Homo sapiens: one gene and its partners. The protein of the gene in region 1 interacts with the protein of each later gene in a pairwise test. Each region holds a gene or a part of one and is shown in the gene's direction. Other genes may lie near its edges.

What was found. The genes of interacting proteins can lie anywhere in the genome.
Region 2: the proteins of SLC38A9 (region 1) and LAMTOR4 interact in binary tests that used the Homo sapiens proteins (3 or more experiments, as listed by UniProt).
Region 3: the proteins of SLC38A9 (region 1) and TM4SF5 interact in binary tests that used the Homo sapiens proteins (3 or more experiments, as listed by UniProt).

Annotation. Positions count from the first base shown.
Region 1 is NC_000005.10:55,667,210-55,674,664, reverse strand, and holds part of SLC38A9 (neutral amino acid transporter 9), read left to right. Parts: intron 1-1,969; coding exon 1,970-2,102; intron 2,103-4,785; coding exon 4,786-4,907; intron 4,908-5,044; coding exon 5,045-5,108; intron 5,109-5,343; coding exon 5,344-5,437; intron 5,438-7,455.
Region 2 is NC_000007.14:100,143,809-100,152,221, forward strand, and holds the start of LAMTOR4 (ragulator complex protein LAMTOR4), read left to right. Parts: upstream 1-5,109; 5' UTR 5,110-5,164; coding exon 5,165-5,167; coding exon of another isoform or gene 5,168-5,245; intron 5,246-5,690; coding exon 5,691-5,771; intron 5,772-8,413. UniProt on the Homo sapiens protein: As part of the Ragulator complex it is involved in amino acid sensing and activation of mTORC1, a signaling complex promoting cell growth in response to growth factors, energy levels, and amino acids.
Region 3 is NC_000017.11:4,774,735-4,782,189, forward strand, and holds part of TM4SF5 (transmembrane 4 L6 family member 5), read left to right. Parts: intron 1-6,054; coding exon 6,055-6,135; intron 6,136-7,455. UniProt on the Homo sapiens protein: Acts as a lysosomal membrane arginine sensor.

The DNA of each region.
Region 1 (7,455 bases):
GAATACCTGAGACTGGGTAATTTTAAAAGAACAGAGATTTATTTCTTATAGTTGTGGAGACTGGGAAGTCCAAGGTCAAAGGGCCCACATGTAGGGAGGGACTTCTTGCTTATCACAACATTGTGGAAGGGCCAAAGAGTACGTGAGAGAGGGTAGGGGAAAGGAAGGGAACTGAACTCATTCTTTTACCAGGATCCCACTCCTATGATATTAACCTGCTCCCAAGATAACGTCATTAATCTGTTTGTGAACTCAGAGCCCTCATGACCTAATCACCTCTTAAAGGTCCCACTGTTGGGACTGTTGAATTGGAGATTTTCTTCCAACACATAAACTTTGGGGGACATATTCAAACCACAGCACTAGTATATATAATATGTCATATTGATCCCTATATCCACATATTTGCTCTATAAGTGCTCTATTTACATATTCATTGAGTTGACCTATATAGTACCCAGCATATTTAGGTTTTGCGGTAGAGAACAAATAGTAAAAGATTCAAAGATTCTGTATGCTAACTAGAGAGATAAAACTAAGTTTAACACCTCTGCTACCATTTCTCAAATATCACAGAATTAATAAGAAAAATAGCAGAAATTAAATGTTCAGTCACTTGGCTTTTCAAGTACTTCCCACAAGATTAGATTAACGGCTGGGTGAGGTAGCTTATGCCTGTAATCCCAACTCTTTGGGAGGCCAAGGCAGGTGGATCACCTGAGGTCAGGAGTTGGAGACCAGCCTGGCCAACATGGTGAAATCCTGTCTCTACTAAAAATACAAAAATTAGTCAGGCATGGTGGTGCACACCTGTAGTCCCAGCTACTCTGGAGGCTGAGGCCAGAAAATTGCTTGAACTCAGGAGGTGGAGGTTGCAGTGAGCCGAGATCGCACCACTGCACTCCAGCCTAGGCGATAGAGTGAGACTCTGTCTCAAAAAAAAAAAAAAAAAAAAGATTAGATTAACAGTATCTCCAGAAATGGTTACCATATGTTACTACATTTTAAGTTCCTTTCAGAACCATAAGTATAGAGGAGTTAGTGGAACCAATGATAAATCTGGATTTTTTTTCTTCTTTCTTTGGATCTGTGCCTGAAATGGCAAATTATGTGCAATTTGGGGCACAGTGTCACTTATGATTTCAAGGAGCCTAAGAATCAGCAGAGGGATACAGTCTTTTGATAAAACTCTGCCTGGTCTTTTCATTTTGGATAGTATATTACTGGAAACTTCAGAAGAAAATGAGGGAGTTTCAGAAAGGAACTGAAGAGGTTGATGACTGAAAAGGATGATTGAACACCAAAATCTGCAGTTGATTAGGATGCAGACGTGGAAAGGAAGCATGTATATAAATAAAAGGGTATGTTACTAAAATCCGCAAAAAGTAGAATGAGGCAAAATATCTCCATTGTCATGATGTTCCATTTTATACTGAGTTGGATAAGTCTCATAAGGGATCTGATAGTTGAGGTCACTAATCCTTAATACATGAACCAAGGAATAAGAATTCTGTTTATCATAGGAAATAACTTGGGCCCATAAGGAAGGAGTAGAGACTCTTCAGGAGAGGGACATTTTAGTCCATAATTTCTCTGATTTAGTGCCAAAAGCTTTTTTGAGAGACTATTCAAAGCTGTCTTAAGTTTCATTGTTGGAAATTGATAGCTGCTGTATTTCTTTTTAATAACTGTTTTAAGTTCTTTCTGTTTTGTCTTCTCGGTTGCTAAATTCCTGAAGATTACAAAAAAAGTGTGCTTAAAGTAAAAGTGTTATGAGACAAAAGCTTTATTCTGTGGATAGGATAATACTTCTTTTGTAACATTTTCTGTTTGCACCAAAAGTGAGAAGTCAATGCCTTGCCTTTGTGCATCCCATTACTAATGGAGGATAAGAAGTTATTTTCTTCAAAGGCTGACTTCCAGAATTTTTGGCTGAACACTTTTTGTCAAGTGTATATTCCCTTTGTAGGCCTTTCTGTATAGAGCCCACAAACATCGTGAATGTGAATCATGTCATTCAGAGGGTTAGTGACCATGCCTCTGCCATGAACAAGAGAATTCATTACTACAGCCGGCTCACCACTCCTGCAGACAAGGCACTGGTAAGAGACAAAACATTACTAATAGTCTAAAATTCAGTTGAAATGAACAGTGAACAATATAAGCCAGGGCACCTCCCAGTGATTGAACTTCTTTCTGACTGTATTTCAAGGACAGCATCATGCAAAGTCAAAGATAGTAATTAACACACATCCTACATCTCAGGCCAGTTCATTCTTATCTAAATTTGAAACAATGTTTCTATGTTGACAACAACCTGGAGATTTTTTTGGATTAAATTCTCCTGATCCCCATTCCCCAAATCTCTGAGGAGGATAAATTACTTTTGAAATGGCAAGTTAGGCCATTGACTAATAGCAAATAATAACATGTTCTGCTTAGTGTGGACAATTTTAACTTTGAAGCTGTAAGGGAAATATTTTTTTAGAAATTTTCTACAAGAATGGGAAACTGGCCAAGCACAGTGACTCACTCCTGTAATCTCAGCATTTTGGGAGGCCAAGGCAAGAGGATCACTTGAGCCCAGGGGTTCAAGACCAGCCTGGAGAAGATGGTGAAACCCTGTCTCTACAAAAAAAAATTTTTTTAATTAGCCAAGCATGATGGCTCGCACCTATAGTTCCAGCTACTTGAGAGGCTGAGACAGGAGGATCCCTTGAGCCCAGGATGGATCCCTTGAGGATGCAGTGAGCTGTGATTGTGCCACTGCATCCCACCCAGACTGAGCAAAAGAGTGTGACCCATCTCTTTTTTTTTGAGATGGAGTGTCGCTCTATCACCCAGGCTGGAGTGCAGTGGCGCAATCTCGGCTCACCACAACCTCTGCCTCCTGGGTTCCAGCCATTCTCCTGCCTCAGCCTCCTGAGTAGCTGGGGTTACAGGTGTGCGCCACCACACCTGGCTCATTTTTGTATTTTGAGTAGAGACACGGTTTCACCATGTTGGCCAGGCTGGTCTTGAACTCCTGACCTCGTGACCCACCCACCCTGAGGTGCTGGGATTACAGGCGTGAGCCACTGTGCTCCCAAAGTGCTGGGATTACAGGCGTGAGCCACTGTGCCCGGCCATGTGACCCCATCTCTTAAAAAAAAAAAAAAAGAAGAATGGGAAACTGAAATATGTACACATAAATATAGTAGTTTCTTATTTAGCATTATTCTTTTATTGATCAAAACCAGGAGTCAAAGAGCCAGATACTAAATGTCTTAGACTTTGAGGTCACATGATATTCTTCATTTTGTTTATGATCATCAAAATTATAAATTATAAAATTTATAAAATTATAAAAACCATTCTCAGGAAAGAGGCTGTATAATAATCAGGTTGAAACCAGATTTGGCCTATGGGCCGGAGTTTGTTGACCCTTGATCTTCTAAAAATCTCTATTACTATTTTAGGATAAAAAATATATATAAGTAATTTGGTAGTTTATAAAAACTACCGCATATGAGATAGTCAGAAACTTGCAAGTTTAACTGAAAATAAGAACATTCTGGGAGAAAACAGGATTTTGAAATTAGTATTATTAATAAAAAGAAGAGAACCAACATTCATTAACATTTAATAAGGACCAGTGATTGGGCATCACTGGAATGTAGCTATCTCATTTAAGCCTAAACAATAGCTATGTGAAATAAATATTAAGATTTCCTCTTGTATGGCCAAAATAGGGATTTCCAAAATGTTCTGGGTAGGATAATTTTTTTCCCAATTTTTTTTTCGGCTTTTTCCCCTTAGGCCTTGACATCAGTAGTTGTGGCGAAGTCTTAGTTCCATAATGGAATTACTTAAGCCCTTGGAGGAGTAGAGATAATCCTGTATCTCTGGGTCTAGTTGAGACCTTCTAGAGGCTCTGCTCTTGGAAACAAACCTCCAAGATCCCAGATGAGCAAGTTTATACCTGCATGTATATTGTTTGCCTGGAAATAGAGTCAGCATGTGCACCAAAGTTGAATGCCATTTGTTAACTGACACTGAGATGAGTCTAGGAAGTCAAAATATATAAACAGTGATGTAAAATTGACAATGATATAACCATTCTTAATGAATGTGTGTATACATCCACACTCGTTTTCTGAAAATCCCAAAACTATTTTGGATTTTTAAACTCTTGCTTTTTTAGTTAGATTTTCTATATTTGAAAAATAATTTTTAAATTCACTAATCAGGGATGCATAGTACTTGCATCCACACTCGTTTTCTGAAAATTCCAAAATTATTTTGGGTTTTTAAAACTTGCTTTTTTAGTTAGTTTTTCTATATTTGAAAAGTCATTTTTTAATTCACTAATCAGAGATTCATAGTACTTGTTTATGATAGTTAAAATGTGTCTAGAGGGCCAGGCGTGGTGGCTTACGCCTGTAATCCCAGCACTTTGGGAGGCCGAGGCGGGTGGATCATGACATGGTCAGGAGATCGAGACCATCCTGGCTAACATGGTGAAACCCCGTCTCTACAAAAAAATACAAAAAATTAGCCAGGCGTGGTGGTGGGCACCTGTAGTCCCAGCTACTCGGGAGGCTGAGGCAGGAGAATGGCGTGAACCCAGGAGGCGGCGCTTGCAGTGAGCCGAGATCGCGTCACTGCACTCCAGCCTGGGCGACAGGGCGAGACTCCGTTCAAAAGAAAAAAAAAGGTGTCTAGAGTCAGGTGTTCTGATGTGTAACAAATATCCTATTTTGCATTTCCTGGTTCTGAAATTTATCTATGTTTCCTTTTTACCAGATTGCCCCAGACCATGTAGTTCCAGCTCCAGAAGAGTGCTATGTGTATAGTCCATTGGGCTCTGCTTATAAACTTCAAAGTTACACTGAAGGATACGGTAAAAACACCAGTTTAGTAACCATGTGAGTGAAACTGCTTTTTGGAGCATGACTTAAACTGTATATGGATGAAAATTACTGGTTTTTTAAATTTTTGTCTCAATTAAAATGTTTGAAGAGTGAAACTCCATTTTTTTACTGCTATTACTCTGTGTTTTCAGTTTTATGATTTGGAATACCATGATGGGAACATCTATACTAAGCATTCCTTGGGGCATAAAACAGGTAATACTAATTTTTCAGCACACTTTTTGCCTAAATGTTTTTCTCTTTATATTGTAAGTTTTATAACAGAGGTTTTAATAAATCTACATAAAATTCATTAAAGAAAATAGATGGTTATATTTAGTTTTTCATGAGTTGTCAAGTTTTTATCATGATTGTTTAGGGTAAAATAATTGCATATGAATTTATGCTTACATGATGATATATGCTGTTTTATACTTTTATTTTTAAACAGGCTGGATTTACTACTGGAATGTGTGTCATCATACTGATGGGCCTTTTAACACTTTATTGCTGCTACAGAGTAGTGAAATCACGGACTATGATGTGTAAGAATTTGACACAGTGACAATAGATTATGGGTATTAATAAGCATTTCCCTTTGAGGCAGATCACTAGTGTGTATATGCTACATGTGTGTCAGCTGTCTACTTTGTACCTAAAGATTTACTTCTGTAATTCATCGCTTTCAGCTAAATTGATTTGCTAATAATATTTAGTGGCTGCTTTTGAAATTCAGAGAAGCTGGGAGTTATTTGCAGAGTGCATTCACTTTGGTGCTAGTTTCTTCATAAGAATCATTTAAAAACTCATATTTATAAAATAATGTCTTTGCCAAAACTAAATTGAGAATTCTGTGCTTCCTGTCAGTTAATGGTGACTTGTTTTGACCTATTCATACCAAAAGATCTAAATGTTAGAATCTGCTAAAAGTAGAAATTATAACTAGAAAAATATGAAAATGTAAGCAACTCCCTAGTAATGAATATTTGAAGTTGTGTGAACACCTTACCTCTACTCGTATCTACAAATTCTGGATCAGGGAAATATCTTTTTTAGGTTGTTTTAAAGTAGTCTAGGACCTAAACAAACATGCATTATTTCATTAAATCTTAGCAAGTATGAATCAACAGGCCAGACTTTGCCTCCAGTTTTTTTCTGTGCCTACTAAGCAGCTTCCTTCTTTATGTTAACCAGATCTCCTATTAGTCACTGGGCAAGTATTTGTTTAAAAGTCTTGAGAAGCCAGACCTGGTGGTGTGTGTCTGTAGCCCTAGCAACTCAGGAGGCATAGGTGGGAAGATCACTTTAGCCCAGGAGTTTGGGGCCAGCCTTGGCACTGTAGCAATACTTCATCTTAAAAAATAAAAAATAAATAAAAAATAAAAAAGTCTTGAGAGAAGATTCATTCTGGTTTCTAAATGGTAAGAGGAGATAATTTTAGCCTCTGGTTTCTAAGGCAAATTGTGGCTGAACTTGGAAGACTTCTTTAAATGTATACAGTAAGTTCATGTCTTATCTAATTCAGCATCTCATTTAAAATTGGAACAGAGCCCCCACAGAGTTCTCTCTATAACTGTTTTTTCTTTTATTTTCCTTTTTTTTGGAGACAGGATCTCACTGTCACCCAGGCTGGAATGCAGCAGCGCTATCACAGCTCACTGCTGCCTGGACTTCCCGGGCACAGGTGATTCTCCCACCTCAGCCTCCCAGGTAGCTGGGACTACAGGTGCATACCACCATGCCCAGTTAATTTTTTGTATTTTTCATAGAGACAGGGTTTCACCATGTTGCTCAAGTTGGTCTCGAACTACTGGGCTCAAGTGATCTGCTCACCTCTGCCTCCCAAAATGCTGGGATTATTGGCTCTATAACTGTTAACTTCCATGTTATTAAACTACTCCACACCATTTAAAAAGAAGAGAGGCTGAGGCACGAGAATTGCTTGAACCCAGGAAGTGGAGCTTGCAGTGAGCCAAGATTGTGCCACTGCACTTCAGCCTGGGTGATGGAGTGAAACACTGTCTTAAAATAAAATAAAATAAAATAAAAATAATAAAAAGAAGAACTTCCACCAATTCATTTTACAAAGTCCACACACCCCTAACACAAAGCCTGACACTACCAAAAAGAAAGAAAATAATATAGAAACGTAAAATTTATTTGTAAAACATTATCATATAGAATCCAACAGTATATCAAAACATATCCTGTGCCTAAGATAAGGTTTATTCCAGTAATGCAAGGATGTTTCATTATTAAGAAATCCAACATAATTCACTACATTAACAAATTAAAGAAAAATTCATAATTACATCAATAGATATCAAAAAGGCACTTAATAGAATTCAGCACCTGTTTCTGATTAAAACTCTAAGTGAAAAGCACTACTTAAAAATAGCAAAGTCTATTTATTCCCAGACAAGTACCGGCACCATTCTAAAATTATGAAATGCTAAAGCAGTTTTCATTAAAGTCAAGAAAACATAGAAATATTCATAATTAATCAGTTTTTTTTGGAGATATTGTCAAATGCAGCAAAAAAAACCCTAAATAATATAAAAAC
Region 2 (8,413 bases), on another chromosome or scaffold:
GGCTAATTTTTATATTTTTAGTAGAGACGGGGTTTCAAAGTGTTGGCCAGGCTGGTCTTTAACACCTGACCTCGTGATCCGCCTGCCTCGGCCTCCCAAAGTGCTGAGATTACAGGCGTAAACCACTGCGCCCAGCCTAAAGTTATCTTTAACTTCATTCTGTGGTTTTATTATTACTTTTTCCTTTTTTTTTTTTTTGAGACTGAGTCTCGCTCTATCATCCGGGCTGGAGTGCAGTAGTGCGATCTTGGCTCACTGCAACCTCTGTCTCCCAGGTTCAAGGCCTGAGCCTCCCGAGTAGCTGGGATTACAGGTGCCTGCCAATATGTGCAGCCAATTTTTGAATTTTTAGTAGAGACAGGATTTGGCCGCTATCGGGGGAAATTCACCCCCAATATTTCACATAGCTTCTTTTCTATATTCCCTAAGAGTCGGCCGGTCTGAGAAATAAAGGGACAGAGTACAAAAAAGAGAAATTTTAAAGCTGGGTGTCCAGGGAAGACATCACATGTCGGCAGGTTCCGTGATGACTAATAAAAACCAGCAAGTTTTTATTAGTGATTTTTTCAAAAGGGGAGGGAGTGTACGAATAGGGTGTGGGTCACAGAGATCACATGCTTCACAAGGTAATAAGATATCACAAGGTAAATGGAGGCAGGGCGAGATCACAGGACCACAAGACGGGACAAATTAAAATTGCTAATGAAGTTTCGGGCACGCATTGTCATTGATAACATCTTATCAGGAGACAGGTTTGAGCAGACAACTGGTCTGACCAAAATTTATTAGGCGGGAATTTCTTCGTCCTAATAAGCCTGGGAGCGCTACGGGAGACTGGGGCTTATTTCATCCCTACAGCTTCGACCATGAAAGACGGCCGCCCCACAAAGCGGCCATTTCAGAGGCCTACCCTCAGGGACACACTCTCTTTCTCAGGGATGCTCCTTGCTGAGAAAAAGAATTCAGCAATATTTCTCCCATTTGCTTTTGAAAGAAGAGAAATATGGCACTGTTCCACCCGGCTCACCGGCAGTCAGAGTTTAAGGTTATCTCTCTTGTTCCCTGAACATTGCTGTTATCCTGTTCTTTTTTCAAGGTGCCCAGATTTCATATTGTTCAAACACACATCCTCTACAAACAATTTGTGTTAACACAATCATCACAGGGTCCTGAGGTGACATACATCCTCCTCAGCTTACCAAAATGACGGGATTAAGAGATTAAAGACAGGCATAGGAAATCACAAGGGTATTGATTGGGGAAGTGATAAGCGTCCATGAAATCTTCACAATTTACATTCAGAGATTGCAGTAAAGACAGGCGTAAGAAATTATAAAAGTATTAATTTGGGGAACTAATAAATGTCCATGAAATCTTCACAATCCACGTTCTTCTGCCATGGCTTCAGCCAATCCCTCCGTTTGGGGTCCCTGACTTCCCACAACAGGCCACGTTGGCCAGGCTGGTCTCAAACTCCTGAGCTAAAAAATTAGCCGGGCGTGGTGGCAGACGCCTGTAGTCCCAACTACTCGGGAGGCTGAGGCAGGAGAATGATGTGAACCCGGGAGGAGGAGTTTGCAGTGAGCTGAGATCACGCCACTGCACTCTAGCCAGCCTGGGCGGGAAAAAAAAAAAAAAAAAAAGAGAGAGACAAACTCAATAGAAAAATGAGAAAAGAGTTGAACTGGGCCGGCATGGTGGCTCATGCCTGTAATCCCAGCACTTTGGGAGGCCGAGGTGGGTAGATCACTTAAGGTCAGGAGTTTGAGACCAGCCTGGCCAACATGGTCAACATGGTGAAACCCCCTTTCTACTAAAAACCCAAAAAAATTAGTCGTGCCTGGTGGTGCGTGCCTGTAATCCCAGCTACTCGGGAGGCTGAGGCAGGAGGATTGCTTGAACCTGGGAGGTGGAGGTTGCAGTGGGCCGAGATCGCACCACCGCTCTCTAGCCTGGGCAACAGAGGAAGACTATCTCAAAAAAAAAATAAATAAATAAGCCAGTTGCAGTGGCTCATGCCTGTAATCGTAGCACTTTGGGAGGCCGAGGCAGGTGGATTGCTCTGAGCTCAGGAGTTCAAGACCAGCCTGGGCAACACGGTGAAACCCCGTCTCTACTAAAAATACAAAAAAAAAAGCCGGGATGGCAACGTGCCCCTGTAGTCCCAGCTACTTGGGAGGCTGAGGCAAGGGAATTGCTTGAATCCAGGAGGCGGAGGTTGCAGTGAGCCAAGAGCGCACCATTGCACTCCAGCCTGGGCAACATAGCAAGACTCTGTCTCAAAAAAAAAAAAAAGTTGAACTGATACTTCACAAAAGATGATATCCCAAAAGCCAAACCTGTCTGAAAATGTGATCAACCTCATTAATATTTAGGTAAATGCAAATAAAAACTACAATGAGAAGCCATCGCATATCCAAAAACTTTACCCTAAAAGTGTGGCAATACTGGCTGGGCATGGTGGCTCAGGCCTGTAATCCCAACACTTTGGGAGGCTGATGCAGGCAGATCACGAGGTCAAGAGATCAAGACTATCCTGGCCAACATGGTGAAACCCATCTCTACTAAAAATACAAAAATTAGCTGGGTGTGGTGGTGCGCTCCTGTAGTCCCAGCTACTCGGGAGGCTGAGGCAGAAGAATTGCTTGAACCCGGGAACCAGGAGGTGGAGGTTGCAGTGAGCTGAGATTGCGCCACTGCACTCCAGCCTGGGCAACAGAACAAGACTGTCTCAAAAAAAAAACAAAAAACAAAAAGTGTGGCAATACCATGTGTTAATGGAGCTGGAGATAACTGGGAACTCTGACACATTGCTAGAGGAGTGTGAGTTGGTCCAACCAGTTTGATTTGCAGACCATAGATAAAAAAGATAGGAAACTCTCTGATTCATTTTATCTGGCAACCTGCTCTTTCTACCAAAAGCAGATAAAGAATATACCAAAAAGAAACTACAGCCCAATCTCATTTATCATAATAGATTTTAAAAATTCTAAATAAAGCAGTAAAACAAATGGGTAGTATAATTTGTTCCAGCAGATTTTATTCCAGAAACACAAAGATGGTTAAATATCAAGAATACTGCCACCATAATTTATTACATCAAAATCTTTTTTTTTTCTTTTGAGACGGAGTTTCATTCTTGTTGCCCAGGTTGGAGTGCAATGGCACAATCTCAGCTCATTGCAACCTTCGCCTCCTGGATTCAAGGATTCTCCTGCCTCAGCCTCCCCAGTAGCTGGGATTACAGGCATGCACCACCACACCCACCTAGTTTTTTTTTTTTTTGTTTGTTTGTTTTGTATTTTTAGTAGTGATGAGGTTTCACCATGTTGGCCAGGCAGGTCTCGAACTCCTGACTTCAGGTGATCCACCCGCCTTGGTCTCCCAAAGTGCTGGGATTACAGGTGTGAGCTACCACGCCCAGCCTTGAAATTGCTGTTTCTAACAAGTCTTAAAAGACACCCAGACTTTAACAATTGTTATTATATTCAGATTTTTTTGTTGCTTTTTGAGACAATCTTGCTCTTTTACCCAGTCTTGAGTGCAGTAGCATGATCATGGCTCACTGCAGCCTCAACCTCCTGGGCTCAAGCGATTCTCCCACCTCAGCCTCCCGGGTAGCTGGGACTACATGTGCAGTATCATGCCTGGTTAATTTTTAAATTTTTAGAGATGGGGTCTTGCTATGTTGCCCAGGCTTCTAGAATCATTCTTCATATTATTTCACTAACACAGCCTCCACCACATTAATATGGCAACAGGTTTAGAAATTATTTAAAACAAAAATTTCTAATGTTTACATATATTGTGTGATGTGTGTGTGTGTGTGTGTGTGTGTGTGTGTGTGTATCATTCCAAGGTACTGTTTCTAATTTTTTCCTGTAGGGAATGAATATTCAGTATTGCAGCTGCATTGGCTAGCTGGGGATTCTATTTACCACCACATTGTCCCGGACTGAATCTGGGGACAAAAAAACCACTTCGGGAACAAATTCTTGTCTTCAACAAAGAGCTGTCTTGAGTAGGCACAAAAGTAGCATTTGAGGGCCGGACGCGGTGGCTCAAGCCTGTAATCCCAGCACTTTGGGAGGCCGAGGCGGGCGGATCACGAGGTCAGGAGTTTGAGACCAGCCTGGCCAATATGGTGAAACCCTATCTCTACTAAAAACACAAAAATAGCCGGGCGTGGTGGTGGGCGCCTGTAATCCCAGCTACTCGCGAGGCTGAGGCAGGAGAATTGCTTGAACACGGGAGGCGGAAGTTGTATTGAGCCAGAGATCGCGCCATTGCACTGCAACCTGGGCGACCGAGTGAGACTCCGACTCAAAAAAAAAAAAAAGTAGCATTTGAGTACCTTTTTTTTCCTTTTCTTTTCTTTTTTTTTTAGAGGAAGGGCACCCAGGCTGGAGTGCAGTGGCACCATAATAGCTCACTGCACTCTGCAACTGCTGAGCTCAAGAGATTCTCCTCCATCAGCCTCCCTAGTAGCTGGAATTACTGGCGTGAGGCACCATGCCCGGCTTATTTTCTTATTTTTTTGTAGAGGTGGTTGGAGCGGGGGGACTGGGGAGGGTCTCGCTATGTTGCTCAGGCTCGTCTCGAACTCTTGCCCTGAAATGATCCGTCCTCGGCCTCGCAAAGCGCTGAGATTACAGGCGTGAGCCACGGCGCCCAGCCTTGAATAGTTTTTCACATGCATTGCACGTTATTTCCTTTTATTCTCTAGTTTTTGGGTCCAGTCTTAAACCTGGGAAGGGATTCATTTGGGGGGGTCACACCAGCGGGCATCCTGGCTCAGGCGGAACTCTGGCTCCAGACAGTGCGCCCAGGACCAAACGGTCAACCCCGGCCTACTCCCGCCCCTCCCAGATCCTCCCCTCCTCGGACGCTCCCGCGTCTTCCTCTCGCTCAGGCACTGAGGGGCGGGGAGATGGGTGTTAAAGAGGGGATATCACCAATCAACGTGCGCCTCCGGGAAACAGCGCTTCGCACTGGCTGGTTGGGTCTGACGACGTGGCCACTGTCCAATCCTCATGCTAGAGGCGGGGCTAAAGGCCAGTGGCGCAAGCAGAAGGAGGAGCGCAGCGGCTGCAAGCACGTGACCGGGGCCTGAAGCCGGAAGCTACCTATCTGGTAGGGAGCTCCCCCAGCACCGAAGACTGCGATGGTGAGTGAGGACGCATGCGCGAGAGGACCCGCCGGGGGTTCAGCGTCTCTGCTCCCCAGTCTGTGTGGTTTCCCCCTGGTGGGCCTGCGCTCCACCCTCACCTCCTATCCGCTCGGGGAGGAAGAGGGGATGGAAATGGGAGGGATGGCGACGAGAATGCTGGGGAGGGGTCTGTGGGAGGGTGTTCTGGGGCTGCGGGTAGTCTGCAGGTCGGGCGGAGACGAAGGGAGGTGAAGAGAGGGTCTGGGGGCAGGGGCCAGTGGGGCAGCAAAGGCCCCTTGGGGTAGCAAAGGTGGGATGTGGAAGGCCAGGGGAGCCCGGGGGCGAGAGTGGGGGCAGATGGAGGCTCGGGAAGATCAGTATTGAGGACCATGTAGGGGGGAGGGGGCCGGGAAGGGACCTGGCTGGGGAATGAGAAAACCTGGGGCCATCGTCAACCCAGAGACTTGGGTTTGCAGGTGAAGGGTATCGGGCCGTCCATCCCTCTAGCATGCTTCTCACGACTTGCATCTTTACCCACTAGACTTCTGCGCTGACCCAGGGGCTGGAGCGAATCCCAGACCAGCTCGGCTACCTGGTACTGAGTGAAGGTGCAGTGCTGGCGGTGCGTTCTGGGAAAGGGAGGGGGTCCCTTAGTGCACACAGCCCGGTAACCCCTTCTAATATTGGCCCTTCTTTTCTCGGCTTTTATCTGGTTTCCTGCCTGGCATCTATTAGGTTGGTACAAAAGTATTTGCAGTTTTTGCAATTACTTTCAGTAATCAGTCTGTGGAATCTTAGTCTCCTAACGGCTGCGATTTATTTATTTATAGTTTTTGAGACTGAGTTTCGTTCTTGTTGCCCAAGCTGGAGTGCAGTGGTGCGACCTCGGCTCACTGCAACCTCCGCCTCCGGGGTTCAAGCGATTCTCCTGCCTCAGCCTCCCGAGTAGCTGGGATTATAGGCACGTGCCACCATGCTCTGCTAATTTTTTGTATTTTTAGTAGAAACGGGGTTTCACCGTGTTAGCCAGGCTGGTCTCAAACTCCTGACCTCAGGTGATCCACCTGCCTCAGCCTCCCAAAGTGCTGGGATTACAGGCGTGAGCCAACATGCCTGGCCTTTATTTGGTATTTCTTAAAAAGGCATTTGTATTTTGTTCCATAGTACTGTATGGTGTTAGGTCTCTAGATTACAGGCGTGAGCCACCACGTCTGGCCTTTATTTGGTATTTCTTAAAGAGGCATTTGTATTTTGTTCCATAGTACTGTATAGTGTTAAGTCTCCAGATGTTTTTGACTTAGGTAGAGACAAAGCTTAAGGTTAAGGGTTGAAAACAATACAGGTGGTAAAGACTATTGAGGGAATCCAGGATATTAAAAATTCAACATGTTATGACAAGGTAACTAACTTTCCGGGAGGTAGGAATTCAGCCCACCTTAAAGGAGAGTATTTACAGTGGGGGAGGACTTATTTGCAGGTGTGTGGCACTAACCTATCTGAACTGATGGTAAGTTTATGCTGAAAAGATTTGGGAAGGTTTGAGGGAAGAGAGGAGGATATGGTCAGGGAGGATGTAATTGTGAAGGATCTTCAAGGCCAGGTTAACACACTTGAACTTATTCTTGAAGGTAATACAGTTTGAAAGGTTTTTTAAAACAGAAACAAGACCCAGTGAGGTGGTTGAGCAATATTGTTGTTAGTGATGTGAAGATGGGCAGAAGGAGGCGTCATTAAGAGATGAGACTGGGCTGGGCGTGGTGGTTCATGCCTGTAATTCTAGCACTTTGGGAGGCCAAGGCGGGCGGATCACGAGGTCAGGAGATCGAGACCATCCTGGCCAACACGGTGAAACCCCGTCTGTACTAAAAATACAAAAACAAAATTAGCCAGGCCTGGTGGCGGGCACTTGTAGTCCCAGCTACTCGGGAAGCTGAGGCAGTAGAATGGCGTGAACCTGGAAGGTGGAGGTTGCAGTTAGCCGAGATCACACCACTGTACTCCAGCCTGGGCGACAGAGCAAGACTCCGTCTCAAAAAAAACAAAAAAAAAAAGAGATGAGACTGGGCAAGTGGTGGTAAGAAGGAGGAGCAAGGAGAGAAGAGTTTTGTTTTTGTTTTTTTTTGTTTTTGTTTTTTGAGACAGAGTCTCGCTCTGTGGCCCAGGCTGGAGTGCAGTGGCATGATCTCAGCTCACTGCAACCTCCGTCTTCCGGGTTCAAGTGATTTTCCTGCCTCAGCCTCCTGATTAGCTAGGATTACAGGTGTGCACCACCATGCCCAGCTAATTTTTGTATTTTTAGTAGAGAGAGGGTTTCACCATGTTGGCCGGGCTGGTCTCGAACTCCTGACCTCATGATTTGCCCGCCTCAGCCTCCCACCCAAAGTGCTGGGATTACAGGCATAAGCCACTGCACCCGGCCTGTTTTTTTGTTTTTGTTTTTGTTTTTTTTGAGACGGAGTCTCACTCTGTCACCCAGGCTGGAGTGCAGTGGTGCAGTCTCCCCTCACTGCAAGCTCCGCCTCCCGGGTTCACGCCATTCTCCTGCCTCAGCCTCCCTAGTAGCTGGGACTACAGGCGCCCGCCACCATGCCCGGCTACTTTTTTGTATTTTTAGTAGAGATGGGGTTTCACCATGTTAGCCAGGATGGTCTGGATCTCCTGACCTCGTGATCCGCCTACCTCGGCCTCCCAAAGTGCTGGGATTACAGGTGTGAGCCACAGCACCCCGTCCTGTTTTTTTGTTTGTTTGTTTTTTTTTAAGATAGAGTCTCGCCGTCACTCAGGCTGGAGTGCAGTGGTAACGATCACATCTCATTGTAGCCTTGAACTCCTGGGCCCAAGCAATCCTCCCGCCTCAGCATCCCAAGTAACTAGAACTACAGGCAAGCACCACCACGCCCAGCCATTAAAAAAAAAAAAAAAATGTGTGGAGACAGGGGCCTTGCTATGTTGCCCAGGCTGGTCTCAAACTCCTGGCCTCCAGCATTCCTCCTGCCTTGGCCTCCCAGAGTGCTGAGATTACAGGCATGAGCTCCTGTGCTTGGCTGGAAGAAGTTATTTTAAAGGAGGAATCAGTATATCTTGCTAATGACTAGAAATAGGTAATAGAGGAAATATTTCTGTAGCCAGAACTCTAAAGCCTGGAAGAGTGATGATGCCTTAAGAAACATGTCCCTGCGTGGTGGCTCACGCCTTTAATCCCAGCACTTTGGGAGGCTGAGGTGGGTGGATCACTTGAGGTTGGGAGTTCGAGAGCACCCTAGC
Region 3 (7,455 bases), on another chromosome or scaffold:
TGTCTCTACTAAAAATACAAAAATTAGCCAGGCGTGGTGGCGCATGCCTGTAGTCCCAGCTACTCAGGAAGCTGAGGCAGGAGAATTGCTTGAACCCGAGAGGCGGAGGTTGCAGTGAACCAAGATTGCACCATTGTACTCCAGCCTGGGCAACAAGAGTGAAACTCTGTCTCAAAAGTAAAAAATAAAAATAAAATGAAATGGTGCTGGCATGAAGAGCTCCTAGGCAAAGCAGATGCCACTTTTTATAGGATTTTCAGGGACAGGCTCTATGAGGTGATGTCTGAACTGAGACCCAAATGACAAGAAGAAGGTGTGAGTGTTGCAGACACTAGGGGCTGGTAGTACAAAGCCTAAGGTGGGAACAAGCTCTACACTTCTGAGGATCAGACAGGTGGCCGGTGAGGTGAGATGTAATGAGATGAGGTCTGAGGAGGGCAGAGGCTAGGCCTGGAACACCCTGAAAAGCCACAGTGGAGTCATTTGAATTTTTATTATTATAAGTACAACAGAAAACTATTGAAGGACTTTTTTTTTTTTTTGAGACGGAATCTCACTGTGTCGCCCGGGCTGCAGTGCAGTGGTGCGATCTCGGTTCACTACAAGCTCCACCTCTTGGGTTCACGCCATTCTCCTGCCTCAGCCTCCCGAGTAGCTGGGACTACAGGCGCCCGCCACCACGCACAGCAAATTTTTTTTTTTTGTATTTTTAGTAGAGATGGGGTTTCACCGTGTTAGCCAGGATGGTCTCGATCTCCTGACCTTGTGATCCACCCGCCTCGGCCTCCTAAAGTGCTGGGATTACAGGAGTGAGCCACCGCGCCATGCCCTATTGAAGGACTTTTGGCACTTTGTTTTTTGACGGTTTAAAACTTTTTATTTAAGTCACACAGACAAGTACCCAGATCCTTAGTACACAGCTCAACAAACTTTTACAAAGTGAGCACATCTGAGCCCAGGTCAAGAAACAGATCATTACCAGAAGCCCAGACATGCTTCTCACCACACACGGAACCCCAGAATCACTTCACCAACAAGCGTAACCACTATTCTGTCTTCTAACCCCATAGACGAGTTTGGCTTATTTTGCACTTTACACAAATGGAATGATAGAGTATGTGTCTGGCTTTTTTTTGAGACGGAGCTGTTGCCCAGGCTGGAGTGCAGTGGCGCTATCTCAGCTCACTGCAACCTCCGCCTCCCAGGTTCAAATGATTCTCATGCCTCAGCCTCCAGAGTAGCTGGGGTTACAGGCATGAGCCACCACGCCTGGCTAATTTTTGTATTTACTTTAGTAGAGATGGGGGTTTCGCCATGTTGGTCAGGCTGGTCTCGCACTCCCGACCTCAGGTGATCCACCCACCTCGGCCTCCCCAAGTGCTGGGATTACGAGCGTGAGCCACCGCGCCTGGCCTGTGTCTGGCTTCTTTAGCTCCATATTACGTTTGTGAGAGCCACCCATATTATCAGGTGTAGCTGTAGTTTTCTTTTTTTCTTATACATTCTATTATGTGACTATACCTCATTTATACATTCTACTGTTTGTTTGTTTGTTTTTTTGCTTTTTTGCTTTTTTGTTTTTTTTGAAACAGAGTCTCGCTCTGTCACCCAGGCTGGAGTACAATGGCGCCATCTCGGCTCACTGCAACCTCTGACTCCCAGGTTCACATGATTCTCCTGCCTCAGCCTCCTGAGTAGCTGGGATTACAGGCATGTGCCACCGTGCCCAGTTAATTTTTGTATTTTTAGTAGAGACGGGGTTTCGCGATATTGGTCAGGCTGGTTTTGAACTCCCAACCTTAGGTGATCCGCCTGCCTCGGCCTCCCAGAGTACTGGGATTACAGGCATAAGCCACTGTGCCCGGCCCATTCTACTGTTGAAGGAGATCTGGATCATTCCCAGTTTGGTTTTTTTGCAAATAATGCTGCTATAAATATTCTTGTAGATGTATTTAGGTACAAATACGTGTGCATTTCTATTGGATAAAAACCTAGCAGTAAAACTGCTGATTCTTAAGACATGCAAGTATTCAGCGCTAATAGATATTGCCAGTTTTCTGTAGTTCTTAGTGTGAGAGGTCTGGTTGCTCCACACGCCACTGGAATGAAGAAGACTCCTTTGACCACTGTGTGGAGAATGGGTAGTAGAAGGTCTGCAATATATACAGAAAAAGACCAAACTGAGCTGGGCGTGGGGCCTCAAGCCTGTAATCCCAGCACTTTTGGAGGCCGAGGCCAGCGGATCATGAGGTCAGGAGTTCGAGACCAGCCTGACCAACATGGCGAAACCCCGTCTCTACTAAAAATACAAAGTTAGCAGGGCATGGTGGTGCATGCCTGTAATCCCAGCTACTCGGAAGGCTGAGGCAGGAGAATCTCCTGAACCCAGCAGACAGAGGTTACAGTGAGCCGAGATCATGCCACTGCAATCCAGCCTGGGTGACAGAGCAAGACTCCATCTCAAAAAAAAAAAAAAAGAAAAAGAAAAGACCAAACTGAGGTCACGGAAGACATCCAGGAGAGATGAGAGTGGCTTGGACTAGGCCAGTGGCTATGGAAATGGAGAAATATGAGCTGATTCAGGCTATAAGCACAGTGTTTTCTTCTTCATTTATGATGACACTTTTCACTAAGACAAAAAGATGGTGAAGAATGAGACAGAGAAGCACATACTACAAAGGGAAGCAAACACTTTAATCAAAAGAGTAAAAATCTCAAATAGGGCCAGGTGTGGTGGCTCATGCCTGTAAAATCCCAACACTTTGGGAGGTGGAGGCAGGAGAATCGCTTGAGTCCCAGCATTCAAGACCAGCCTGGGCAACATAGTGAGACTCTATCTCAACAAAAATTTTAAAATTAGCTGGGTCTGGCCAGGTGCGGTGGCTCACACCTGTAATCCCAGCACTTTGGGAGGCCGAAGCAGGCTGATCAGCTGAGGTCAGGAGTTTGAGACCAGCCTGACCAACATGGAGAAACTTTGTCTCTACTAAAAATACAAAGTTAGCAGGGCGTGGTGGCGCATGCATGTAATCCCAGCTACTCGGGAGGCTGAGGCAGGAGAATCACCTGAACACGGGAGGCAGAGGTTACAGCGAGCCAAGATCGCGCCATTGCACTCCAGCCTGGGCAACAAGAGCAAAACTTCGTCTCAAAAAAGAAAAAATTAGCTGAGTGTGGTGGTACAAGCCTGTAATCCCAGCTACTCTAATGCTAAGGTGAGAGGATCACTTGAGCCCAGGAGGTCGAGGCTGCAGTGAGCCATGATCATGCCACTGCACTCCAGTCTGGGCAACAGTGTGAGACCCTCTCTCAAACAAAAGCAGAAACCTCAGACAAGTAGATCATTCAAAATTGGTAAATCCAAAAGGCAATTCTAGGTGTGTTTGGATCCACAAGCCTCCAGTAAGTGACCTAACCAGGGAGGTAAAGTAAGGTGTCAGCATGGGTCCTGGCCCTGCCATGAGACAGGAAGAAGAGAGAGCAGGTGTTTCTCTGAGGTTGCTGGGGATGATATAATAGAACTGAAACTCTCAGCCCTTTCCCTGGAGAAGCACAAAATGCTGCCTTGGATGGTATGTGCCAGATAAGACACATGAGGAGCCAGGCACAGTGGCTCATGCCTGTAATCCCAGCAATTTGGGAGGCTGAAGCAGGAGGATTGCTTGAGCCCAGGAGTTCGAGATCAGCTAGGCAACATGGTAAGACATGAACTCTCCAAAAAAATTAGCCAGGCATGTTGTTCCGCACCTTTAGTCCCAGCTACTCGGGAGGCCGAGGTGAGAAGATCATTTGAGCCCAGGAGGTTGAGGATGCAGTGAGCCATGATTGCACCACTGCATTCCAGCCTGGATGACAGAGTGAGATCCTGTCTCAAAAAGCAAACACACACACACACGAAAGCAAGAAGCAAGACAGCTGTGGAATTCCAGAGATAGGAGACAGGCAAAGAACCTGACCTGGTGCAACGAAGATAAAGGTAACGGAGCCAGATGAGGAGGCTTAAATGCCTTACAAGAGTTAGGCGTTCAAGTTACAAGTCTTGGCCAGGCGCGGTGGCTCACGCTTGTAATCCCAGCACTTTGGGAGGCTGAGGCAGGCGGATCACGAGGTCAGGAGATCAAGACCATTCTGGCCAACATGATGAAACCCCGTCTCTACTAAAAATACAAAAAATTAGCCCGGCGTGGTGGCATGTGCATGTAGTCCCAGCTACTCAGGAGGCTGAGGCAGGAGAATCACTTGAACCTGGGAGGTGGAGGTTGCAGTGAGCCAAGATCACACCACTGTACTCCAACCTGGTGACAGAGTGAGACTCCGTCTCAAAAAAAAAAAAAAAAAAAGAGTTCAGTCTTGATGGGCTTCTCTGTGAAGAGACCCTAAAGGATTTGAGCAGAGAAAAGACCAGTTGAAAGCTATGTTTAGGCCAGATGCAGTGACTTACACCTGTAATCCCAGCAATTTGGTAGGCCAGGGCAGGAGGAGCCCAGGAGTTCAAGACCAGCCTGAGCAAATAGCAAGACCCCATGTCTACAAAATTTTTTTTAATTAGCTGGGAATGATGACGCATGCCTGCGATACCAGCTACTCAGGAGGCTGAGGCAGGAGGATCACTTGAGCCCAGGAGGTCAAGGCTAAAGTCAGCCACGATCAAGCCACTGCATTCCAGCCTGGGTGGCAGAGTGAGACCCTGTTTCAAAAAGAAAGAAAGAAAAAAAAAAGCTATGTTTAACCTGATAGAGGATAGAGTGTAGGGTGGCATGGGGCAAGAGCTATGAGAGTGTAATAGGGAGGCTGAGAACACCCTCATGGGAGGTGATGAGGGATTCAATGTGGGGAGGAACTCACAGATTCAGGAGCCACTTAAGTAAAAGTTGAGAAAATTTGATGTCTTTCTGGGTGCAAGATTAAAGCTTTCCAGCCTGGCTGACCTAGTAGATGTTATTTTTTCCACTGATGGAGACAAGAAAGTCAAAGGGAGATGAATTTGAGGAATATTGTGAGATGAGCGTGAGGCTGGTTGAATTTGAGCTAAAACCAAGATATTCAAGTGAACATAGGATCTGGAGGCATCAGTTTTGGAGGCAACTTCTGGCAGAGTGAAGAGCTGATTCCCTGAAAGGGGATGGGCATTGTTAGGAAAGCCACAGGGAGAAAAAAAGACCAAGGCTTGAATCTTGGAAAATGCTACACTCCATATCAGACCATCCACTAGCACTCTTCCACACTCTACTGTAATCCCAATTCACCAGACACTCCAACACCTCTATCCCTTCCTGCTGCTGAGGGAACTTATAAATATTGAGTTACTCTGAGCTGGTCTTTTTTTTTTTTTTTTTTTGAGATGGAGTTTCGCTCTTATTGCCCGGGTTGGAGTACAGTGGCACGATCTCAGCTCACCACAACCTCCACCTCCCAGGTTCAAGTAATTCTCCTGCCTCAGCCCCCCGAGTAGCTGAGATTATAGGCATGCGCCACCACGCCCGGCTAATTTTGTATTTTTAGCAGAGTTGGGGTTTCTCCATGTTGGTCAGGCTGGTCTTGAACTTCCGACCTCAGGTGATCCACCAGCCTCAGCCTCTCAACATGCTGGGATTTCAGGCGTGAACCACCGCGCCCGGCCTCTGAGCCAGTCTTAACACCTAGTCAGCTTGTTCTCCCATTAAATCCTGAGAACAGACCTGTGAGGTAGATCTTCCAGACCCATTTTATACAGGCAAAACTGAGACCCTGAGAGATGAATCAATTCATAGCATGTGAAGTAGTTTCCCTGATTTCCATTCAGTAGGGCACCTACTATGTGCCAAGATTGGGGAAAATAATGATATTGGGCCCTACCCTCTAGAGGCCACAATCTGGACAGAGATAAGGTAGGCACGTAAATAAGGATAAAGTAAGGTGAAGCCCAGCAGCTCCAGGAGACGTAGAGATAAGGTCTTCTACAGTCCAAAGGGCTGAAGGCATCACAGGCAGCTTCCTGAAGGAGGTAGGCACTGATGCAAGTCAGGCCTGGAGGATCTGGGGGGACGTGCTATAACAATGACTCTTGTCCCACAGGTACTGTGTCCGGGGATTGCAGCCGTTCGGGCAGGGGGCAAGGGCTGCTGTGGTGCTGGGTGCTGTGGAAACCGCTGCAGGGTAAGATCCAGATTAAGAAGGAATTCAGGGCTGGGGGTGGTGTCTCATGCCTGTAATCCCAACACTTTAGCAGGCTGAGGTGGGAGTACGGCTTGAGCCAGGAGTTCTAGACCAGCCCAGGAAACATGGCAAGATCCCTATCTCTACTAACAATACAAAAATTAGCCGGGCGTGGTGGCAAGCACCTGCAATCTCGGCTACTTGGGAGGCTGAGGTGGGAGGGCCGCTTGAGCCCAGGAGGTCCAGGCTGCAGTAAGCAGTGATTTAAAAAAAAAAAAAAAAAAAAAAAAAGAAGAGAAAAGATACAGAAATTAGCCAGGCGTGGTGGCGGGCACCTGTAATCCCAGCTACTCAGGAGGCTGAGGCAGGAAAATCACTTGAACCCTGGAGGCAGAGGTTGCAATGGGCCGAGATCACACCATTGCACTCCAGCCTGGGCAACAAGAGTGAAACTCTGTCTCAAAAAAAAGAAAAGAAAAGATACAGAAATTAGCCTGGTGTGGTGGTGGGCGCCTGTAATCCCAGCTACTCAGGAGGCTGAGGCAGGAGATTACGGTGAGCCAAGATTGTGCCATTGCATTCCAGCCTGGGCAACAAGAGCAAAACTCCGCCTCAAAAAAAATGTATTTTTATTTTATTTTACATTTATTTATCTTATTTATTTTAGACATAGTCTTGGTCTGTCACCCAGGCTGGAGTACAGTGGCACGATCTTGGCTCACTGCAGCTTCCGCCTCCCTAGTTCAAGCCATTCTTGTTCTTCCAGCCTCCCAAGTAGCTGGGATTACAGGCGCCTGCCACCACACCCAGCTAATTTTTATATTTTTAGTAGAGACGGGGTTTCACTGTTGGCCAGAGTGGTCTGAAACTCCTGGCCTCAGGCGATCTGCCCCCCTTGGCCTCCCAAAGTGCTGGGATTACAGGTGTGAGATATCGTGCCCAGCCTCGAGTCAGGTTTAAAATAAATTTCCCTTCAAACCCCGGGCTTGCAGTTAGGCTAACCTGAAAGCCAGCGGCCGCCGAGATTCACTGGGGTTGTAGTTCCCCCCTCTCCCCTTCACCCGCCTACCCCTCAGGATCATTGAGATCTGAGATTTGTGGGTGCCAGGGAAGGGTGGGGTGGGGCCTGGGAGTCCGCAGAGGAGCTTGTGTAGCTAGGAATTCCATAGAGAGTGCTGTGGTTCTGCAAGGACAGGTGCAGAAACAGAGTCCGAATTTCTAATTTTTTTTTTTTTTTTTCTTTTTGAGACGGGGTCTGGCTCTGTCGCCCAGGCTGGAGTGCAGTGGTGCGATCTCGGCTCATTGCAACCTCCGCCTCCC